4 separate regions of the Homo sapiens genome follow, and regions 2, 3 and 4 are each linked to region 1. The links come from fine-mapping of genetic effects on gene expression. A gene starts in region 1. Each other region holds a variant in brackets. All regions are shown on one strand. Distances are from middle to middle.

Region 1 (5,512 bases):
AATTAGGTCAAGTATATTCAGTTGCCAATTTATATATCTCTTTCTACTCACTGCCAACTTCTGAATCATTGACTCTCCTTAAAAGTACTGTTGGGAAGGTTATCAACTAGCCTTGTCTTCAAGACCAAGGACACCATCTTATTCTCATCATCCTGGCAATATTTGACACTAACCCCCACCACCTCCTTCAGGATGCTCTTCTCCCTTTCCTGCCATGACCATTTGCTGTGCTGGTTCTCCTTTACGGACTGCAAGCCAATCTTCTCCCTGAAATCCTAAAGAGGGGCATATCCCAATGTCCAATCCCTGGCTCCCTTTTCTTCTCACGTAACATCCTTAAATTGTGGTTTATGTGCAAAAGATTTCCAAATGTCGATCCTCAAATCACCTGAGACCTAAACCCACATTTTCAGCTTTCTGCTGAACATCTCTAGCAGAGGGATGGATGTCCTTCCCACACTTCAGATAATGAACAAGGTCAACATGCGTGAAACACTTGCTCTGTGCTTGTACTTGACACTTAATACATCTCATGTAACTCTCCACATCCAAGAGAGAACATACCAACTTCATTGTCCACCTTCCTCAAACCTGTTCACCTCCTTCAGCATCAAACCTCAGTTAATGACTCTACACTCGCATTCTTCCCCCTTCTTCCCATCCAGTGAGCTGCCAAATCCTGCCAATTCTGCCAGTGAGTGGTCTTCCTGTAACTATCCTGCCTTCCAATTTCATCTCTGGCTCAAACTGCTAATCACCTGCCTCTTACCTCAATCTTGACACCACCAGAGTTCTCTACTGAGAATATAAATAACATCACGCGAATCTGCCTCCCCAAAGCCCATGGCCTCTGGACTTATTTCCTGCCATCCCTCCATGTACCTGGGCTCCAGGCCTACACTGGCAAGGCACTGAACTCACAGTTCCTGTCCCAGCAGGCCCAATACTTCACAAGATTCATGCCAGTACATAATCCCTCTCTCACCATGGCTCACCAGGTCTCATTCCCCTTGTATCCCAGACAGCACCCTGAGGAATGCTATGTGTTTGGTAGGTGCTTAACAAATACTTTTTTTTTTTTTTTTGAGAGGGAGTCTCGCTCTGTCACTGATGCTGGAGTGCAGAGGCACGGTGTCGGCTCACTGCCAGCTCTGCCTCCTGGGTTCACACCATTCTCCTGCCTCAACCTCACGAGTAGCTGGGACTACAGGCGTCCACCACCACGCCCGGCTAATTTTTTGTAGTTTTAGTAGAGAAGGGGTTTCACCGTGTTAGCCAGGATGGTCTCCATCTCTTGACCTTGTGATCCGCCCGCCTCGGCCTCCCAAAGTGGCTCCCAGGCATGAGCCACCGCGCCCAGCCTAACAAATACTTTCTAAAGTTACACAATACAATTTTCTAGCATGTGTTCACCTTTTTCCAAAAAAGAAAAAGAACTTCTATACACATGAAAATCCATAATAAAGAAAAATCGTTCTAAAGTTTATCTTCTATGATGGAATGTACACAGAAACAAAAATATTCCCTTAGAGCAAAAAAGTCAAACTCTTACTCTAAACAGCTTTAGAAATAACTCAAAAGTCACAAAAAGCAGATTCTGAAAACACTGGGTTTTAATGATTACAAACCAAAATAATGATTCCCTACTTGCCAAGAGAAGAAACAGATTTAGATGAGTCAAATAAGGTTCTGGAAATCTTTTGATTTTATGGCCTTCGGCTGCCCCAATCAGGCATCAGAACTACCAAACATTAACCTCCACAAGTTGATATGACAAAAGCAAAAAGGCCCTATGGTAAGTCAAATATCCACCAACTTGGTAGAGAAGTCAATAAAATCAAATGGCTCTGTGTGAACCTTGCCTGTCACCTTGGAGGACACATCCCATTTCTACCTCATTCTTTGAAGTCAAACCAATTTAAAAAGTAACTTTTCCAAAGAAACTTTCTAAACGGATTAAAAAGAGGTCATTGAAAAGGGAGCACAGGCTATTTTTCAGTGAATGAAGAGAAGGATTCTGAAAAAGCATTACTTCGTAGAAATATATAACAAGATTAAATTTTGTGTGTAACACTCTTCCTCTCTCTTAATATCAGAGTATTTCAAACACGTGTAAAGCGTCCCTGACTTTTTTCTAGGAGTCAGGACTTTGTCAAAGTTTTCCCATCCACTCTCTAACATGAAGTTAGGAACTGCTAAGTTATCGATTAGACATTCAGGGAATCAAAATCATCTCTAACTGAAAGATTAAAAAGTAGCATGGTTAATTGTTAAGAGAACTTCTGAGTTGGTAGAAATGAGGGGTTCACCTGACAGTTCGTGGTGCCCCCCCTCAGCACTCTCACCTTCCCCCCAACTATTTTACATCTTCATGGTAACGTTCCCTTGATGCTTTTTTAAAGGGGGAACAAGAACATCTCAAGTTAATACGATGGAGAGAGTTAATAGAATCTTCTCCTTTACCACCAGGGTCCTCTCCAGGGCAATGTGAACGGGACAGCAGTGCACGAAGTCCTCCAGGCCCCCAGAGGCCACAGCCTGGGCCCGGTGGGCCAGGGACCAGCCGGTGACACTTTTAAGTCCAGGCTGGCTTTGGGGGAGCTGGAAACAGGCTTCCTCTGGGTGGGGGCGCGACGAGGGGGCGGGGCGCGGGCGGCCCCACTCACCTGCGATTCATGGGCCGGACCCTCACGGCCACCTTGACCGATGCCATCGCTCATCCCGAACCAGCCCGCGCGGGGTCCCACTAGCCCAGAACTCCGCGGTCGCCGGCGACGCTGGCTACTCAGATCGCGGCTCCCGCCCACTTCCCTCTCGCCCCCGCCCCTCTGCTCCCGGCCGGACCTGGAGTTCCGCGGCAGCCCCACCTGCCAGGCCACTGAGCATGCCCAGAACGGCTCCGGCCCGCGTGATCCATGCGCCACGGTTTGGCGGCGGCCGGGCGGTGCAGAGGGGCGGGGCCGCGGGGCCTGGAAGCAGCCTCCGGGATCTGCAAGTCTGGAAAGGCCACGTTGTGGACCTTGGCGCAGAGGTTATGGGGGCGACCCGGAGCGGATGGTTTCAGGAAAACTAGAACCCACCCTCATGGCCTGAACAACTGGAGAGAAGAGGATCGCAGCAATTTAAAGCCAGCGGCAAGGATCACAGTCCTGGGGTCAGGTGACCAAAGCCAGTTTTTCAGCCCTTAACAAGAACCTGGCTTCACCCAGCCAAACATGAGTTAACGTATCCATTTTACACACGAACAAACTGAGGCGCAGAGATGATCACAGCTTGTTGGTGGCAAACTCCGCTAGGGCCTTCTCTGCTACCCTAAGGAGGTCCGACCGTATGTTTTGGACCCCTTAACTCGGGATACCGATAAACGAAAATTAATAGGGTGTTGGATGTTTTAAATGTGTGCGGGAATGTCATTATATTGGCTAGAATCAAACCTTATTTAGACTTGTTTTGCACTTTTGTACACTTTAGTAATTTTTAGTTTTAATCATAAGGGAGTTAAAGGCGAACACAACTGGTATTTTTTTTTTTTTTTTTTTTTTTTTGAGACAGGGTCTCGCTCGGTCACCCAGGCTGGAGTGTAATGCTGCGATCTCGGCTCACTGCAACGTCCGCCTCCCGGGTTCAAGAGATTCTCCTGCCTCAGCCTCCCGAATAGCTGGGCGTGCCACCACGCCCGGCTGATTTTTGTATTTTTAGTAGAGACGGGGTTTCACCATGTTGGCCAGGTTGGTCTCGAACTCCTGACCTCAAATGATCCGCCCGCCTTGGCCTCCCAGAATGCTGGGATTACAGGCGTGAGCCACCGCGCCAGGCCGACAACTGGTATCTTAAGGCTTAGGGCCTCTGGTAGAAGTGAGCTCCACCTCCCTTCCTGTGTAGAAGGTAAATGCATTCATTCATTCAGTGAATCGAGCATGCATGAAATCGTTTGCGCACACCCAGAAGCCCACCTGCGAGCCACAGGAGCAGCCATTCCAGGAAGCCAAGCTATAATGGGAGACGCAAGGAATGGAGGCGGAACTCCTGTTTTTAAGTCCTAGCTCCAACACTAGCCTTGTCAGCCTGTAATTCTGAATTACTGGGCGCCTCTGAGGCTTCTTGTCTCATCTGCAAATCAGGAACAACGGCATAGAGTGGTGAATGCATCAAGTGGGATGATGTCTGCAAGTACGCAACCCGCTTACACAAAGAATTATCTTTCCATAACCTTCCCTGGACCCCTAGGGCCAGCAGGGAATCATAGCCTCCCTTTGTTTCTAGAGCCCGGAAATCACTGGGTTTTCCCTCTGTCTGGAGCAGAGCTGGGTGCGAATTTGACCAACGGGTGGCAGGAACAGCCGGAGCAGGATATTAAGGAGCGGGCGAGCTTGCCAAGCATGCGCAGTAGCGGCGGGTTGGTTTGAGAAGCCGCCAGGGAGCCAGCGCGGCGACCTAGCTGGCTGGGGCAGGGGAGGGGCCCGCCTTATATGGGAGCTGCGTGGGGACAAACTGTTCGGGCCCAACGCGCGGGTCTGAGAGACAGCCACGCCTGCTCCGGGTCACTCCGGCCACCTGGGGGGCGTCGGCGCGCAGACTCTGGCCAGTTCAGTATTCAAACTCTTCAGGAGTGCTAACTTACTCATGACAGCGATTTTCTGTATCGGGGTTTCATTGGTCGGTGGTTTAGAAGGTTTTGCTCATTCATTCGTTAATGTAATTCCAACAACCTACACGTGTTTATAAGCCCCCTTTCCATCCACGACTTTGCTGTCTGACACAAAACGGACCATCGCAGCCCGGCAGACGCTTTAGACAACAAACAGCATGCCTGGAGCTTTTCAATAGGAAGCAGTAAGGCTTGATCATCACAGACGATACGGAACGGGCACTTTCTTAGCAGAAAATATTTCTATTGGGGCGTGAAGGAAGTTTCTGAAAGGGAAGATTATTATAAGATAAGGGGTTTGCTCATCTCAGACTTTAGTGTGCCTGCTTTAAAGTGTTTTGCAAACTTGAATGTTTAAAGGAATCACCTGGCGGTCTTGTGAAACTGCAGCTTCTAATGGGCAAGTCAGAGGGGAAGCCTGAGACATGGCATTTCCAGCACGTTCGGGGAGTGAAGATGCTGTCGGCTGCCACCCTCCCTGCAAGGAGCCAGGGGATAGATGACCTCTACGCAAACTGTGAGAGCTTAAAATAACTGATAGTGAAAAACAGTTACAGAAGCTCTAGGCCGGGCACGGTGGCTAATGCCTGTAATCCCAGCACTTTGGGAGGCCGAGGAGGATGGATTGCCAGAACTCAGGAGTTTGAGACCAGCCTGGGCAACACGGTAAAACCCTGTCTCTACGACAAAATAAAACAAACAAAAATAAAAGCCACGCATGGTGGCGTGTGCTTGTAGTCCCAGCTACTCAGGAGGCTCAGGTGGGACAATCGCTTGAGCATGGAAGGAGGAGGTTGCAGTGAGCCAAGATCGCACCACTGTACTCCAACCTGAGTGACAGAGTGAGACCCAATCTCAAAAAAA
Region 2 (5,512 bases), 43 kb before region 1:
GAAGAAAGGCATCCAGTGGAGAATGCCTCAGGCAAAGGACACCAGCGCCTTAATGGAGGAAATGAAATGATCCAGAGGCTGCCCAGTTGGAAGATGGGAGCATTTCCCAGCTTCTACCATTGGAGATCAACTCGCACTACTTTGAAATTGGATCTCAAAGTACCCAATCCTTTGAGCCATAAATTAATAGAAATCTCCACAGATGTGAACAGGAGATAGATCTGACTTGGCCATGGAGCATCATGTCTCAGAAACCCAGACCTAAAAGTTAATGACAAATATCAAAGGAGAAAGGCATTGAACCCATAAAGTACTTCATTTCTTTCTTTTTTGTTGTTGTTTTTTTGTTTGTTTGTTTGAGATGGGGTCTTGCTCTGTTGCCCAGGCTGGAGTGCAGTGGCACAAACAGGGCTCACTGTAGCCTTGATCTCCTGGGCTCAAGTGATCCTCCCATCTCAGCCTCTCGAGTAGCTAGGACCACAGGTGTGCACCACCAAGCCCAGCTCTGATTTCTTCAATATTAATTTTATACCCCCGTTACCCTCCTCAGCGAAAAGCATTCAGTGCCCTTTAAAAATTTCCTAACCAAATAAACAAACAGGATATTTTTCAGTGCCAAAGGAGAAACTTGCCATCTTGAAAATTTTTTTTAACTTTTTTTCCAGAAAAGAAATTTGGTGGTTTTTTTTAATCTTTCCTCCCTGAGTTTTGAATAATAGTATCAGTTCTTCTTCAAGGATTACCAAACATGATCCTCTTCATTAAAAATGGAAAAAAATATAGGGGCAAAGCTTATTTAATGTTCACAGAACACAGTCAATTGCCAGGCTAAGTCCCTACTACGAGGACACAGGATGAAAATGCCCGAATCTGGGATAGACTCAGGAGCTCCTGGACCAGAGCAACAGCTTGGATTTGGCTTCCAGATCAAATAAAGCCAGGAATGGGAAAGGAAACGGGATCAACTCTTCTGCTTCAAGACTGAGCCCAAGCCAGGTGCAAGCTGACGTGGCTAACTGCACTGGAAAGGAGGGTGTGGAAACAGCAGACAGGCTTTATTTACTCATTAGTCATCCCCACAGTAAAGCAATCATGGGGCTCTTGGAACTTAAGCAAGGCCAGGTCATGACTTGCCTTTAAGTTTGTGATTGTCGTTTTGCTTTTCTCCATCTGAATAATGAACTTGGCCTCCAAGTCCTTTTCCCTGCAATACAAATAATTCAGTAGTGGTTAGAAGAGAAAAGATTATTAAAAACAAAACAAAACTAAACCCATTTGTTTTATTTACTTTTTACGTTAGGAGTTTATTTTCAAATGGCATCTGAGGAGCAATCCCAGACACGGCTCCTCCCAAATCCTTACTAATATAACATGAAGATACGCAAAATGATGCCACCATCAACAATTATGGCTGATACACAGTGTGTTGTTAAACCCTGAAAGAATTTCCAATTGTAAGCCAAAAGAAGAGTAAATGAAATAACAGACACCACAAAGAGCTAAGACTCACCAAAAAAAAGTAGCCCCCCTCACCTTGTTACAAAGAGAAAGAGACCTTAGCCCCCTACCCAAGATGAAAACCAAAGAGAAAACTGGAGTGGTTACAAGCAGGTGCTGCTTCCAGAAGCAGCCAGGGCACTGTTCCCTCCTCCTACCTTCTTTCTACATCTGTTCAGAAACTGCATTTCTCAGAAAACAGCAGAACAGGAGGACTCCTAAAGAGTACAGTTCCCTAGAATAAATGACCATACATTTACCCAATGGAGTGTGACGCCACTGAACAAGGAATGAGGAAGATCCCTATATCTGTTATGGCGTGGCCACTGGGATATACTGGGATATACTGTTCAGTGGAGACAAAAGATGGAGAAAATCTATGTAGAAAAATACAAATTATATTTAAACACTTTTTTAAAACCTATGTATTTTTCAAAAGGCTACCTAGGAAAAAAAGGGAAATTGAGGATAAGGATTTGGGGCAGACAAGGGAAGTGGACAAGGATAGAAGCTAGATTTCTGCAAATATACTTTGATCTGGAGGTCATCTTTAGAACGATAAAAATGATTTATGCAAAAATAAAACAAGAGTTTCAAAAAACAAGCTATAATTTAGAAGTAAGTTGAAGCGAATGAATCTAGCTGTGTACCACAAAGTGAGAAACTATTTCAATTACGACTCTATAGAGGAATTTGACTGTATACTATAATGAGATATATCCTAAAAAGAAAAAGAACTACAAAGAAATCTTAAAGCATTTTTAGTAATCATATTTTTGGTGGTAATGTAAGTGCCATTATTCTGAGATTTCTGTCTGTGTACTGTGGGACATTACAAGAGTAATGATGTTGGTGCCCTAGAGAACCAAGGTTTTTGAAGTGGCTGAATGAGATACAAACATAAGTTTGATGAGGTTAAGTAAAAACTGTAGTCCTGGCCGAGCACGGTGGCTCACGCCTGTAATCCCTGCACTTCAGGAGGCAGAGGCGGGCAGATCACCTGAGGTCGGGAGTTCAAGACCAGCCTGATCAACACGGAGAAACCCCATCTCTACTAAAAATAGAAAATTAGCCGGCCATGGTGGCGCATGCCTGTAATCCCAGCTACTCGGGAGGCTGAGGCAGGAGAATCACTTGAATCCA[A/G]GAGGCAGAGGTTGCAGTGAGCCAAGATCACGCCACTGCACTCACTCCAACCTGGGCAACAAGAGTGAAATTCTGTCCCAGAAAAAACTGTAGTCCTGAATCTAATTGGAAGGAGTAGCAGAAACTTCATCTTTCATCCAAAATTTAAAAAACAAACAACTCCCTTGCTTTGTCCATTGAAAAGGCCTAGAATCTTACACTCAAATTATAGCCTATAAATAACATTTTCCACTAAAATAAGTCAGGGTTCCTTGGAGAAGTGATTCAATCCAAATACTGAACCATCTCTTCACACTATAAAGCAGGAACACTAACACAGGTCACTAGGGCTGTGGCGGGCACCTTCTAACACGGCTCCCAGTGATTGCCCGGCACTCACACCCTGTCGTGTGCGATCCTTGCCCTTGACTATGGGCTGGACCTGGTGAGTCACTTCTAATGACTACAACACAAACACACCCAAGTGATGGTCTGTCACTTCCCAGGCGGGCTTTCAAGACTGTGACTTCTGTCTTGCTGGCTCTCTCTTCTGCCCTCTCTGTTTGAGCCCTGGCAGTGTGAAAAGTCAGGGACGACAGAGTGAGGACCCCTGTGGACAGACCCAGCCAGCAGGAAACAGGGGCCCGCTAGCAGCACGCCAGACAGCCTGGCAGGGCACGCTCCCCAAGCCCGCACCGGGACATGATGATGAGAGATGACTGGGAAGCCGTCTGGCACCCTGACTGCAGCGCTAGGGGAGAGCCGGAGTCAGAGGACCCTGCTCAACCCCACCCAGATTCCTGACCCACAGAAACTCTGAGATAATACATGCTGTGTTTTGTTGTTGTTGTTTGGTTTTTTTTGAGACAGGGTTTCGCTCCTGCCACCCAGGCTGGAGTGCAATGGCATGATCTCAGCTCACTGCAACCTCCACCTCCTAGGCTCAAGCGATTATCCTGCCATAGCCTCCCAAGTAGCTTTGACTACAGGCACGCACCACTGCACCTGCCTATTTTTGTATTTTTTGTAGAGATGGAGTTTTGCTGTGTTGCTCAGGCTGGTCTCAAACTCCTGAGCTCAAGCAATCCACCCGCCTCGACCTCCCAAATTGCTGGGATTACACACACGAGCCACCATGCCTGGTCAATACATATTGTTTTAAGCCCCTAAGTTTTGGGGTAATTTGTTATACACTAAAAGAAAACTAATACAAGGACCCTGTCAAAAGGACTCAGGAACCAACCTGCATAAGTTCCTGCTGCCCAAAGTTGAGAAATCTGGACAGCAAAGAAACTAAAAACCAACTGAAATAGATAGAATATATTTAAGCACATAAACTCATAACTTAAAAATAAAAACTCAGTGGTCCCCTCTGAAAGATCAAAGGATCTGTCTCATTATTTTGAAAACTGTTAAAAGAAAGAATCAAGCATTTATCTTGCATTTCCAAAACTATCTATACTTCAAGTAACCAAACAACTGTGAAAGAAAGTTTCTCCTTTAGAGATATTCCAGCTAAAAAAATAAAGAAGTAATAACAAAATATCATTTCGTCACCCCTGGTGAATTAATGGCTCTAGGGAGGGACCACCGATGGTTACCAGGCCAGCCACTGTGAGAAAACCAGGTACGAGGTGTATTCTACCTGAAGTACCAACGCGACTGCCCCAGGGTTCCTGTCCTTCCCTCCCAGGGATGGCCTGACTCTGACCTAGAGCTGCCCTATAGGGAACCAGCAGGAATGACAAGTGTAAGTGGGAACACGCCAATGTTCTCAGGTGGGGGAATCGGTAAAATCCAGCCTGTGGGAAAGGCAGCAGGGTAAATGACTCAGCATATTCCAAATTATGACAAATTGCAAAGAATATAACGATGAAAGGGAAATCTAAAGCTAGAAAAGACATTAAAGACATATCAACCAACTGGATCCCAATTCAAACAGAAAAAGCACTTTGAAAATTATAACCATTTGGGAGGCCGAGGCAAGTGGATCATCTGAAGTCAGGGTTCGAGACCAGCCTGGCCAACATGGCAAAACCCCGCCTCTACTAAAAAGACAAAAAATAGCCGGGTGTGGTGGCGGGCACCTGTAATCCCAGTTACTTGGGAGGCTGAGGCAAGAGAATCGGTTGAATCCAGGAGGCGGAGGTTACAGTAAGCCGAGATTGTGCCATTGCACTCCAGACTGGACGACAAGAGCAAAACTCCGTCTCAAAAAAAAAAAAAAAAAAATTATAACTTACGTAGGGAAATGTTAACACTGACTAGATATTTGATGATATTAAGGAATTATTGCTAATATTGTAGGTATGATAATAGTATTATGACTTAAAAAACCTTTTAGAGATACATATTGAAATATTTACAAATCAAATGATATGTTACCTGGGATTTACTTTAAAATAATCCAGGTATGGGGAAACCAGCTAAGGGGTAACATCTTGGCCAGCTCAGACGAACAGAGACAAAATAAATATCAGTTGTGAACAAACCCAAAAAGCATTTGCAGTAAACACCATTTGGGAACTACAGCAGATTCCCAGGGCCAAGTTTAACATTTCCAAGCCTGAAAAATGCTTCCACTCCAACCCACCAGGAGTTGGGCAATTCCATTGTGGACCCAAAAGTAAGAACTGCTTCAGGGACACCCCATGTTCATGTGGCTACAAAACAAATACTTCATAAAATTAAACCTTTCCTACAGCATTCAATTACCAAAGCATGTCCTGCTCAACAAGAGAACAAACCACCTGGGTTTATTTATATCACAGAACACCAAACCCAGATTCCTCCCATTCCCACAGTGGGTCCTTTTTTCTCAATCAATCACTAACCTAATGCATCTAGAGCTTTCATCTTAAAACCACTATTATCAACAAATACCTCTCAGGAA
Region 3 (5,512 bases), 300 kb before region 1:
AGGACAGTCAAAGAAAGGATGTTTTGCATTTAGTCAATTTTGCAAGAGTCACACAGGAGACAGCTTTCTAGAAAGGCATGGGGTAACCTTGGGAGATGTGCCACAGCCTAGTGCCCAGAGTTCCCGGATGGTAAGTGCACGCATGTGCTATTTGCAGGTAACAAGGATGAACTCACATCCTTCAACCCCTTCAGTTCAGTCAACTGCCTTTTTGCTCCTTCTACCATTTTAAAGTTTAACAGGGTTCTACTGGATCCCAAATTATCATTCTCAAGGTAACACCCTGGTCAACATTAACATCACCCCTCTAACTCAAAGGTACCACTACGGGATCAATTTGAAACAGGATGCTTCAGAAATTTGTAATAATGGGCAACTTTTGTCAATTTGGAAATAATTCCCTATGTGCAAAGTTCAAAATTGTGTACCACAGAATCATTTCCTATCTAATGAACTGTCATCAGTAAAAGCAGTCTCAACAGAAAAAAAACCAAAAACCAAAAAACAAACAAACAAAAAAAAAACCAAGAAAGTCAATAGCCAGGTCTTCTTGCATGTGAAAAAGGAGGAATACACAAGGTTTAATTTGCGAGAATGAGTCTCTGTAGATTAATGGTCTTTAATTAGTTTTCCCAAAACCTAAATCACCTGTCATGATAAGCTAAGTAAAACTAAAGCAGTTAATTTTGCCATCTCACTGTCCTTGTCCCTTCCAGCCCCTAGTTAATTTTGCCATGGATTTATTTTGCCTAACTTTTCTACTCCCCTTCTTTTATTTAACATGAAAAAAGAAAGACCTTTCTGATAAAGTCGGATCTGAATCACTCCTATAGGTGTGTGTCAGATTATGGAAGGAGAAGGGTCTCCTGCGGCAGAGACGTTCAACTGTCAACTGATGACACCTCAAGGCAACATTTTAATCAAGGCAACATTTTAGGCATTTATAAACGTCAGTGTACTTGAAAACCTAATGCTACTGTTTGAAGCATGTCAGGCCTGAAGCGCTATGCACATTCTCTTTGAGGGGACAAGGCAAGCCTGTGGCAGGCTCAGAGTATCAGTAAGGAGCCACATCCCCTTAGCACGTGGCTCTGCATCCCTGACTGCGCACCTGAGGAAATGGGGTCTTGTGGTTTTGTGCTGCAGGAGATGTGTCCAGAAAAAAAAAAATCTTGTCTTTAAAAGTTGAATACAGAACACCAACGTGACCCTGCACCACAGCTGCTCCCCAAGGGTGCCTCCACCTCTGAGTCTATGGCATGTTCTAGCCGTGAAAGCTTTTGGCTGCTTCTGCTCAGACTTGGACACATATGCTGTCTACAGCTCTGAGTAGATCAGGGACCAAATTGGGCAGAACTAGCTCTTTCTGCATAGAATTGTAAATAGAATCGGCCCTGGGGTGGGATACCCTGTTTGTGTATCTTCAAATCATCCCCCATTATGAGCCACAGAATCTTCTAGATGTCAGTCATTGGGGAAGCCAGCATGACTTGGTTACTCCCTATTCATATGCCAAAATTAATCACGAGGTTAAATGTGAATCTTTCTAATTCAGCAATAGCAAGGTCTGAGTGGGAACTGGGCGGAAGGTTACAATACCAGTGATATCAACAAATTTGGTGCACATATTTATCATGCAAGCAAGACCTAGGAGTGAATGTCAAAACTACTTAAATAAAAAATTGTTTAAGTTCCTTAGATTTGTCCAACCGACTGCAAAAGTATTTATGTTCATGACACTTCAATTTGAATTGCCTAAAGTGGTCAGCTTGGCGTTACTTTGTTATTTGATGACTTGGAAGTAATAAAATATCCATTTGCTAATTTTCTTTCACTCTTTTAAATTAGTCCAAATCAATGGAGTTTCCATTTGTTATCCTAATTCTGTCATCTGTCTTATCTTCACTCCAGAAAGGAATTCTGTTGTTTAGATGTGACTTTTCATTTGCTTTTCAACTTTCCCTCATGTTTTATTCAGAATCAGCTGCCTTTAAATCAGATTGGAAGTATGTACTTCACGTACACATATGAGGGACTGTAATGAGTCCGAATGACATGGTTTATTCCTCTGCTGTAACCATGAGCTGGAATGAAACTCAAGAGACCATCCAGTACCACAGCTTCATTTTCAGATGGACAGACTGAGGCCTAGAGAGGCAAAACGACTCCCATGTTATGACCGGCCTTGGCCAGAGCTTGCTAGTAGTACTCAAACTCCAAACTCAACTATAATTACTTAAGGTGAGGATTAGAATAGAAGGATCTTCTGATTTCAGCACTTCTTACAAACACATGTCTATTTATTCTTGCCAAACCTTCTGTGTGATTTTAACAAAATGCTTACCAGGAGCCTAGTCTCCAATACCGGCCTCAAAGGCCAAGAGATAGATTATCTGGTCAGTTTGAAGAGAAACCACTTAGTTTACTCAGCAAATGAGGGACCATCTTTAGGGCTTAAGACTCCTCTTAAATAAATGACCTATGGTTAATTATTATCTACCCAGCTCTTATCCCTTAATCTCTAGTTTGAAATTCTCTGGTAGTAATTGCTCCTAAACCTATTCCTGTAATCACAACTGCAGACAAAAGCAGGTCCTTCTGCAGCAAAAATGTCCTCATTTTTTTTCACACTATACTATGATATTTAATTAGTGCAATACTAGTTTTCCTCCTTATAGGGATAATTGCACGTTTATGCATATTTTTCAGGTTGGAGAACTTTGTTGTGAAGGCATTCTCTAGAAGATGGAATGCAAACATGTTCTGTTAACCATTCATTTACGACTTCAATCATTACTATCACTGCATCTTCTGCAACACAAATGCTGAGTTATACATTATGCATATTTCCAAGAACATTAGATCAATGTTTAAACAGACTAGTATGAATGATCATGTTACAGACTTAAAATAAGCTGAGCTACAGGGTAGATGCCATAACTTCATTTAATATTGATAGCAGCTCAATTTAAATTTTGAAAAAGCAAATACATTTAATAAAATTGGTGTGAATTATTACATATTTTGATGGAACTACTGTACAGAATGTATACATATATAAATCTATAGATAGAATTATATACATTTGAGTATATA[C/A]CACATACATATTTTTTCCACTCACATTTTTCTCTTTAGTAAAACAAAGCAGTTTTACTGTACACAGAAGTGCAATGCTACATTAAGTCCTGAGTAATTTAAGGTATCATTAATAAACTGCTATAAATTCTAGTTTTCCAGCCAAAGATCCAATAGATTCTGTAACAAAAAATGTGAATAATACTTAAAAATATGCATTTAGCTTTGCGTTCATTTTGTGCTTAGCAGAAAAAGCTCAAGAATGCACAGTAGCCATTTAGATTTGGGAGAATGTTCTTGAATATTCAAGGTTAAATAAATATCCTAATTGTAGGGATTTATAGAAGTTTTAAGTAATGTTGTCTACATCCAATTTGTCAAGCATGGAAGACTACAGTCATGATTGGATCAAAAAATCCCTTTTGCAGAATATGAAATTCTGTGTAAACATCAGTGTTTGGGTTTTATATAAAAGTTCTGATTCAAATGAGGGAAAAAAAGAAAAAAATACAATGAAATAATTTAAAATGCTTTTCTTGGAATATAGCCAGCCACATGGAAGAAATATAAAAAATACGAGTATATTTTGGTGAAAGAGGAAACCAGATGAAAGTCATTTAAGGGTGGTCTGGTAAGCCACCCACTTTGGGAGGTCCCAGGCTGGCTGGGCTCAGGGAACCCACGATGGCCCAACCACATCTATCTTGCCACAGGGGACGAACTTTGCTGCGCAGTGAGAAGGAAGCACTGTGGGAAAAGGCCACGTTCAACCGCAATGGAACGGTAACGGCTGCCTGTCAGGGCCACATCAGCAGGCAGAGCATCCCATCCCCAAACTCAGGCACTAGGTATGGAAACGTGAGGTGGCCCGGGCCCGCTGCTGCATGTCTGTCTTCAGCAGGAGGAGGCAGACCCGGATCCTCGCATGGGGGAGCTGCCCTGCATCGGAGCCCGCTTCGACGAGAAGGCACTGCTGTGGTGGTTCCTCCATCACCCCTGGCTCTACCCCGTCCCGTGGCTGCTGTAGTCAAAGACTCCTTTCTTGAAGAATGGTGAAAACTCACAAATGGTATGTTTCGAGAGAGTCAGTCCCACTTTGTTGATGTGGAGGGGAGATGTTGCGGACTGGAGCATCACGCTGAAAAAGTCCCTGAGGTATTTCTGTGGAAGAGACAAGAGTTAAGAACATGGTCAATTGGGAGGTCAAGGCGGGTGGGATCGCTTGAGCTCAGGAGTTTGAGACCAGTCCAGGCAACATGGAGAAACCTCATCTCTACAAAAAATAAAGAAATTAGCTGGACAGGGTGGTGCACTGAGGCAGGAGGATCACTTGAGCCCAGGAGGTAGAGGCTGCAGTGAGCTGTGATGGTGCCACTGCACTCCTGCCTGGGTGATAAAGCAAGACCCTGTCTCAATCAATCAATCAATCAATCAATCAATCAATCAATCAGAATACGGTCAAGGTACTGTTGGATGGTGTCAAGAAGAGAAAAAATTTCCAGAAACAACTTCCCACCCACCTGGAAAGTGCTATCATTGTCATTAAAACCAGCACGTGAGGAATGCCCTCCACTGTCCCACCTATCATCAGACCAACCAGAGAAGACGGAGTCACAAAATACATATGCACAGAAGAAATATCTTTGGCTCAGCACTGATTCTGGGCAGCACTGTCTCAGATCTACAGCAGACAATGCCTAGGAAAATGTCAAGGGTGCCAGGCACAGGGGATCTGCCTCTCAGCCACAGTGTCACTAGTTAATCTCTTATTTAAAAAAGTCATTTCCTCCCCGCTCCCAGTTACTCATTAAATAGAAAGATGATTAAAAAAAAAAAACAAAAAAAAAAGGCCGGCCATCTGTACAAGGTTAAATGTGCTGCTTACTGGTATTTTAAAATTGCACAGTCAGTATCTGTTTTGAATCCTTCTTATAAAATAAAGGGAAAGCAATACTGAGGACAAGAGGGTCAGTTCCAAGTACTGATATTTACAGATCTTTTTGCATGTCCTATAATCATCAACAAAAAGGAATCCTTACTACAATTACTTGCTCCAGACCCCTGCTGCATGTTTGTTGCAACATTATCTGCCGTTTTTGGCACTGAGAAAGCAAAGCATATGTGAGACTAGGCTCTGGGAACTGGGGATAAAATCAGATGTGGGAGCTGGAGGGATGTGTTCAAGGAAAAGAGGGCACACAAGAATAGTTAATATATTTTAGGCCAGGCAAATCTCATCTGTAACAGAAAATGGGCTGGAGGGAAGGGGTTAGACCCAAACCTTTATTATTGTCTCAGTGTGCTTAAAAAACCCAAACAACCCTGGCACAGTCTTAGGAATTACACATAATAATTCTGGACTCTGAGTAACAACAAAAAATTTGTGAAAGCAACATGGCCTAAGCCTGGAGCAGTAGTTCCCAACAAGAGGCAGTTC
Region 4 (5,512 bases), 41 kb after region 1:
CTCTGGAAACTTCAATGAAGTTTTGGTCCTTGTAAGCAAGGACCAAAAATGGTTTCTTCTGTATGGAATCTCAAGACTATGTGAATTCCTGTCCTTTCTGAAACAGGTCAGATTTTTTTTCTATTTTGTGGACACTTAAATCCCTCTAATAAATTATATTTCTCCCTTCCGTGGTCTGGGATGTATTTCTCTGGCTTGCACTTAAAGGACCTTTACAGATAAAACTGTGAAAGTCATCACAATCTTGATTTCTGCTCCCAGTCCCGCCCCAGCTGCTGCCTTCCCAGAAGTCATCCTTCAGGTGTGGTTCTGTCTCAGTCAGCCCCAGTGACTTGCCTGCGGCTGACTTCTGTGAATTCAGGCTTCCATTGTCTACCTGGCTATGACTGTCATAGGGAAGCTGTTAGGGCAGCAGAGGTGCTGATCATTTAGTGACAGGTGCAATCGTTACTACTTCTTTCTAGCATGGGTGTTGTCTGACTTGGTGGGAGTGAGCAGGAAGGGAAGATGGTGGTGTTGGGGTTGGAACTACAGAATGGATGAAGTGAGAGGAGGGCAGAGGAGTCACAAGGAAGGACAAAGTAGTCAAAGTATAAAAACATCTCAACTACCATTTGGGGCCAAGGTTGAGTCTCTTATGGATTTTGCTTGGAGGACACTTTGGCCAGCTGTTTTTATGTTACCAGAAGTGGGAAGATTAATACATGGGTATTGGTCCAGATGGAAACAGGGCATATCTGGCTTCTGCATACTTATCTTCCAAAAGCTCATTTATAAAGCAGTTGTGTGGAACTCGGTATGTGTGTTCTCATGGAAGCAAAGTAATAAAGGGTGGCCATAAAAGCTCAAGTTAAGCCGGATCACAGCCGGGCCACTCCACATGCGGAGGCTCCATCTACCACGGTGAGGAGAGCTGGCCTGGAGATAGAGCTGATGCTGGACAAGCCGGGCTTAGTGATGGAGGGAGGAGACTGAGGCATCATTTGAGCCCCTGAATCTGTCTGTGCCTGCAGCACCTCTTACAAAGTTCCTGGTGATGCAGTCCCAGCCTCAGTAGACTCTCTTGTCCAAAATCTTCCTTGCACAACCACCACAAGCACCACAAACTACTCCTCTTTCCCTCTTTAGAATCCCAATGTCACATATTGCCTGTGGCTCTCAACTCAAATCTTAAAATGGACAGAGTTAAGTACCTTGCCCTTCTCAATCAGATGCCACCAGAAAGGAAAAATGAATGAAATGCAGTCACCATCCTTAGCTCAAAGCCTGGTGAGAGGGATAGAACAAATACAACTGATTGATGAAGCACAGAGAGGAAAAGCAACTTGGCCAAAGACACACGGCTCATTATCATGGGGTTTGAGTTCAAACCCAGACAGTCTGATTCCAGAGCCTGGCAAATTTGACTGCTGCTCATATTATCTCTCTTTCAACTGTGAAAGATGTATTCATAGGCATTTTTCTCAAGTTTTTATTTGAAAAGGCTTTGCCCAATGGCCCACAAAGACCTGGGGTGAAGGCAGGAGCTGGAATGGGTTTGTCCTTACCCAAATTTATCCTTCACTGGCCTGATGCTGCATGGTGGTTCCTGGGGATAACTGTTCCTCTGGTCCAAAGTATCACAATCTAAACAGATTTGCAGATGTTCAGCTTCCGTTTTGCCTTTATCAAGTTCAACTGACAGTCCAGTGGGACTGGTTGCATTTGTGCCATGCACTCCAGCCCTCTCCCTCCCACTCCCCACCCCAGCATGTTTCCCTGAGGAACTGGGAGAAGCTGCAGCTGTTGCCTCTGGTTTCCTTCAGCTCCTGCCACAGCAGCAGTTCTTCAAAATTTCATTACTTGTCTATATTTTCAGTAAAGTCACTCAACACTCACCGTTGTCCTGCTTTCCCCAGAGCATGTCACCTTCAGTCTTCAAGCACCAGATAATTAAGTTGCTAGCAAGGTGCTGCAGAGAGGGAAGCCATGCTGGAAATCCCAGGCTGGCAGAAACCTGGAGTGGAACTCTCTTCTTAGGACTTCATTTCCATGGCCAGAAGGAAAGCAGCCTTCCCTAAATTGCACCTGCCTCAAAGCTCTATTGCCTTGACCTCAATTAAAAAAGAAATTACGACAACATCCTTTAAAGAATGCCACTAACAGCCTCTTGGCCTTCTACGGGATACAGCAGCCAATTTGCTGGTCTGTCTCTATAGAAATTGTTTCTCCACTGTGTGGAGAAAATAAAATCCAAGATGGAGATGGTTATGTAAGAGGTATCTAAATGGGATCTGCGGGGCATAAGGAGTTGGATCCCAGTCATGTGCACACCCAGATGAAATCTGACTTGTTGAACTGGGCCAAATTGTAACACCAACTGCATTTGACTTGTACTGTTTATACTGGGCCTGATCACCAGCTTCCTGGAAAGACAGCTAGGCCAAACAAGACTGAAAGACATCCTAAGCTGTTAACCAGCCATCATCAATCATGCACTATATGAAAACCTTCCAGGTATGTAAACTTACAGTAAACCTTTATAAGCCCCTGCCCAACCTTGCCTGATGGAGCCGCTTGCTAGATCTGTGTGTCCTGAATTGCAATTCTTAAGACCCTGATGAAAACACCTTTTGTTTGTTTGTTTTACTGCAGTGTTGGTTTTGTTTCTTTTTAGCTGACAACTGTCTCAACAACAGATTTCTTTTACCCATGTGATTGCTACTTAAAATGGGGTCAATGCCCACATCCCCTGGCAGCTTATTAGAAATGTAAA[G/A]TCTCCACCCCCATCCCAGATCTTCTGAATCAGAATCTTCAGTTTAAGAAGCTCCCCAAGTGATGTACCTTTAAGTTAGAAAAACACAGATCTAGACCAGTGGTTCTCAAACTTTCCTGAGCATTCAAGTCCCTGGGGGGCTTGTTAAAACCCGGATAGCTGGGCCTCACTCCAGGGTTTCTGATTCTTTTGATCTGGAGGGAGGCCCGAGAATTTGCATTTCTAACCAGTTCCGAGATGACGTAGACATTACTTGCTGAGAACCACACGTTGAACATCCCCAAGATAGATCATCACTTCAGAAACCGTGATGAAAGCTCTTTCTTCCTTCATTTTCAATCCATTGCAGACTGATTCTTTTGTAAAATATAATAAACATAAATTATAAAAAAATAGAAAAGACATGAAACAAAGCCCTGATTGATTAACGTTATTGTTAGATTCAACAGACATAAAATTACTGTCAAATTGCTGTAAGAGTTTCTAAACATTTACTCAATTTCTGAACTTATCTAACACAGACCCGTGACAAAGAGTTTGGAGATCTTGCTTTGAGTAGCACTGGTCACAGCAGCAACTCTAAAGTACAGTAGGGATACCCCTGGGGAACTCCAAGACCCCTTTGGGGGTCCACAAGGTTGAAATAATGTTCGTAATGATGCTAACATGTTAGTATTATTATGTATGGTAGAGTTTTCCAGAGGCTACATGTAATGCAAAGGATTGGACTGCTTTAAATGCAGAAGCAGATGACAGAATACCATCAGTTGTCTTCTTTCAAGCCCGACATTAAGGAGGTTTGCAAAAAATATAAAACAGGCTGAGTGTGGGGGCTCACACCTATAATCTCAGCACTTTGGGAGGCTGAGGAGGGAGGCTTACCTGAGACCATGAGTTTGAGACCAGCCTGGGCAACACAGCGAGACCTCCATCTCCACAAAAATAAAAATATTAAAATTAGCCAGTCGTGGTAGCATGCACCTGTAGCCCCAGCTACTTGGGAGGCTGAGGTGGGAGGATCATCTGAGGCTTCAGTGAGCTATGATCGTGCCACTATACTTCAACCTAGGGGACACAGAGCAAGACCCTCTCTCTAAAAATAAATAAGGTAAAACAGTGTCACTCTTGATTATTTCTGATTTTTTTGGTTTCAGAAAATAGTTATTTTTATAAAATATAACAATGAATCTGTTACTATTATTAAATTAAATTGTTGAAGCCCCTCAGTTTTAATATCTACTGTGATAAATATGGACTGTACAGCTCACATAAACAAAAGCTCTTTATAGTTCTTGATAGTTCTGAAGGATGTAAAGGGGCCCAGAGCCCAAACCGTTTGAGAACAGCTGGTCCCAGTCATCTTCTGAGAACAATTGCACTCATCTTGCTTGCGATTTCCAAATGCCTGAGTCTGCGGAAACGCAGGCCTGAGGAATTTGGAGCAGAACTGCAGTAGGCTGCCTTCTTTCTAAGTTGAACAGTAGGAAAAAGAGGGGTGTAGAGTGTAATTACGTTTTACTTGTTGGCTGTCTGCCCATACATAGGCCAGGGTAGAGCTTGTGACTCATTCTCTATTTGTTCCATTTAGGACTCTGTTGAGCTTCAAGTTACAGATATCACCAAAACCGTGGCTTCGGCAAATTAGATTTGTTTTTCTCACATAACAAGAAATATGGAGGTCCATTTTAGTGGTTTAATAATGCCACTAGTGACTGATTCTTTCTTGATTTTTGCTCCCATATATTTAGTGTATGGTCTTCGTTTCTTATGTTCATTTCATGGTTCCATCTACTTTCCAAAGATGGGGAAGGGTGAAAGGCAAAGGTGTCTGCTGATTGAGCCAACCCCCTTCAGTGTTTCCTGCTTGCAACACATGGCCTCTTCTATCTGCAGTGAGCGCTAAGACATGATTTCTAACCAGACGTGCTGCTTGCCTAAATAAAATCAGGATTTTTTTTAACAAGAAAAAGGGGAGAATGGGTATTGGGAGGCAACTGTCAGTATCTGCCACATGCCAGAATCCTTAGAACTTAGCAGAATGCCTAGCCAAGAGTAAGGCTCAATAAATGTTGGTTGGATGAATGAGTGAGCTATATTACATGCACACAATCAGGTCTAAGGGGTCACAAAATGACATCAGAGTCAGATAGAGAATGGTAGTGGGGATAGTAATTGAACTGATCCATGCACTGAAAAAGGAGGGGACCCTTCTACCCCCTCATCACTCACTTTCTCTTAGGCCTTCCCTGAGGTCTTTATGTTCTTACCTCTGCAAGTTCTTTTCCTCCGTTGGCCCCTGGTACCTATATGGTGACCCTTAATGGAGCAGTCCTGAGGCTCTAGAAAAACTTACAGCAGCCTTATCTTCCCAAAGTGCTCTAGCCCCTAAAATACTCCTCCTTTACGCCAAAAGATTCTCTTTTCAGCTGTGTTTAAAGTGAAACAATTTTTTATTACGAAAAATTTTGAAAATGTAAACATGCAAAAAAGATAAGCAAGACTGCTATAATCTAGAGCAAACCAATCTCAATATTTTGATGCATAGCCTTCTAAAATTTTTCTCTTTCTATATATACTTTCTTGTTTACAAGTTTGGAATACATACTATACTGTTTTGTAATTCCTCAATTTACTCTATCATAAACATTTTTCCATGCCAAGTAACAAATGTGTGCTATAATTCTAAGTGTTGCTACCTTGGATTCCATTGTAATGTTTCATTTGCAATTGATCTCACAAGTTCCCACAGCTCCACAA

Evidence for each region. PIP is the estimated chance that this variant, and not a neighbour inherited with it, causes the effect.
Region 2: its variant is the best candidate, but not a certain one, in a credible set for the expression of KIF16B in thyroid (GTEx, PIP 0.66).
Region 3: its variant is the best candidate, but not a certain one, in a credible set for the expression of KIF16B in whole blood (INTERVAL, PIP 0.51).
Region 4: its variant is the best candidate, but not a certain one, in a credible set for the expression of KIF16B in prefrontal cortex (GTEx, PIP 0.58).

Annotation. Positions count from the first base shown.
Region 1 is chr20:16,570,563-16,576,074 of GRCh38, forward strand. KIF16B (kinesin family member 16B) reads right to left here and starts at 2,886. Exons shown (of 26, transcript NM_024704.5): 1 at 2,667-2,886. The coding sequence starts at 2,713. LOC124904875 (a long non-coding RNA gene) reads left to right here and starts at 4,741. Exons shown (of 2, transcript XR_007067539.1): 1 at 4,741-5,165. RefSeq lists an enhancer at 2,643-3,164 and silencers at 2,777-3,006, 2,793-2,922.
Region 2 is chr20:16,527,237-16,532,748 of GRCh38, forward strand. It overlaps KIF16B (kinesin family member 16B), which reads right to left. Exons shown (of 26, transcript NM_024704.5): 2 at 1,135-1,204. Among named protein-coding and RNA genes, the nearest start is that of KIF16B, 43 kb to the right of the region's middle. The variant A/G (reference allele first, on the strand shown) is at 2,641.
Region 3 is chr20:16,269,176-16,274,687 of GRCh38, forward strand. KIF16B (kinesin family member 16B) reads right to left here. Exons shown (of 26, transcript NM_024704.5): 26 at 2,929-4,236. The coding sequence ends at 4,078. Among named protein-coding and RNA genes, the nearest start is that of KIF16B, 300 kb to the right of the region's middle. The variant C/A (reference allele first, on the strand shown) is at 3,097.
Region 4 is chr20:16,611,173-16,616,684 of GRCh38, forward strand. It overlaps LOC105372542 (a long non-coding RNA gene), which reads left to right. Exons shown (of 4, transcript XR_937286.3): 1 at 1-2,496. Among named protein-coding and RNA genes, the nearest start is that of KIF16B, 40 kb to the left of the region's middle. The variant G/A (reference allele first, on the strand shown) is at 2,756.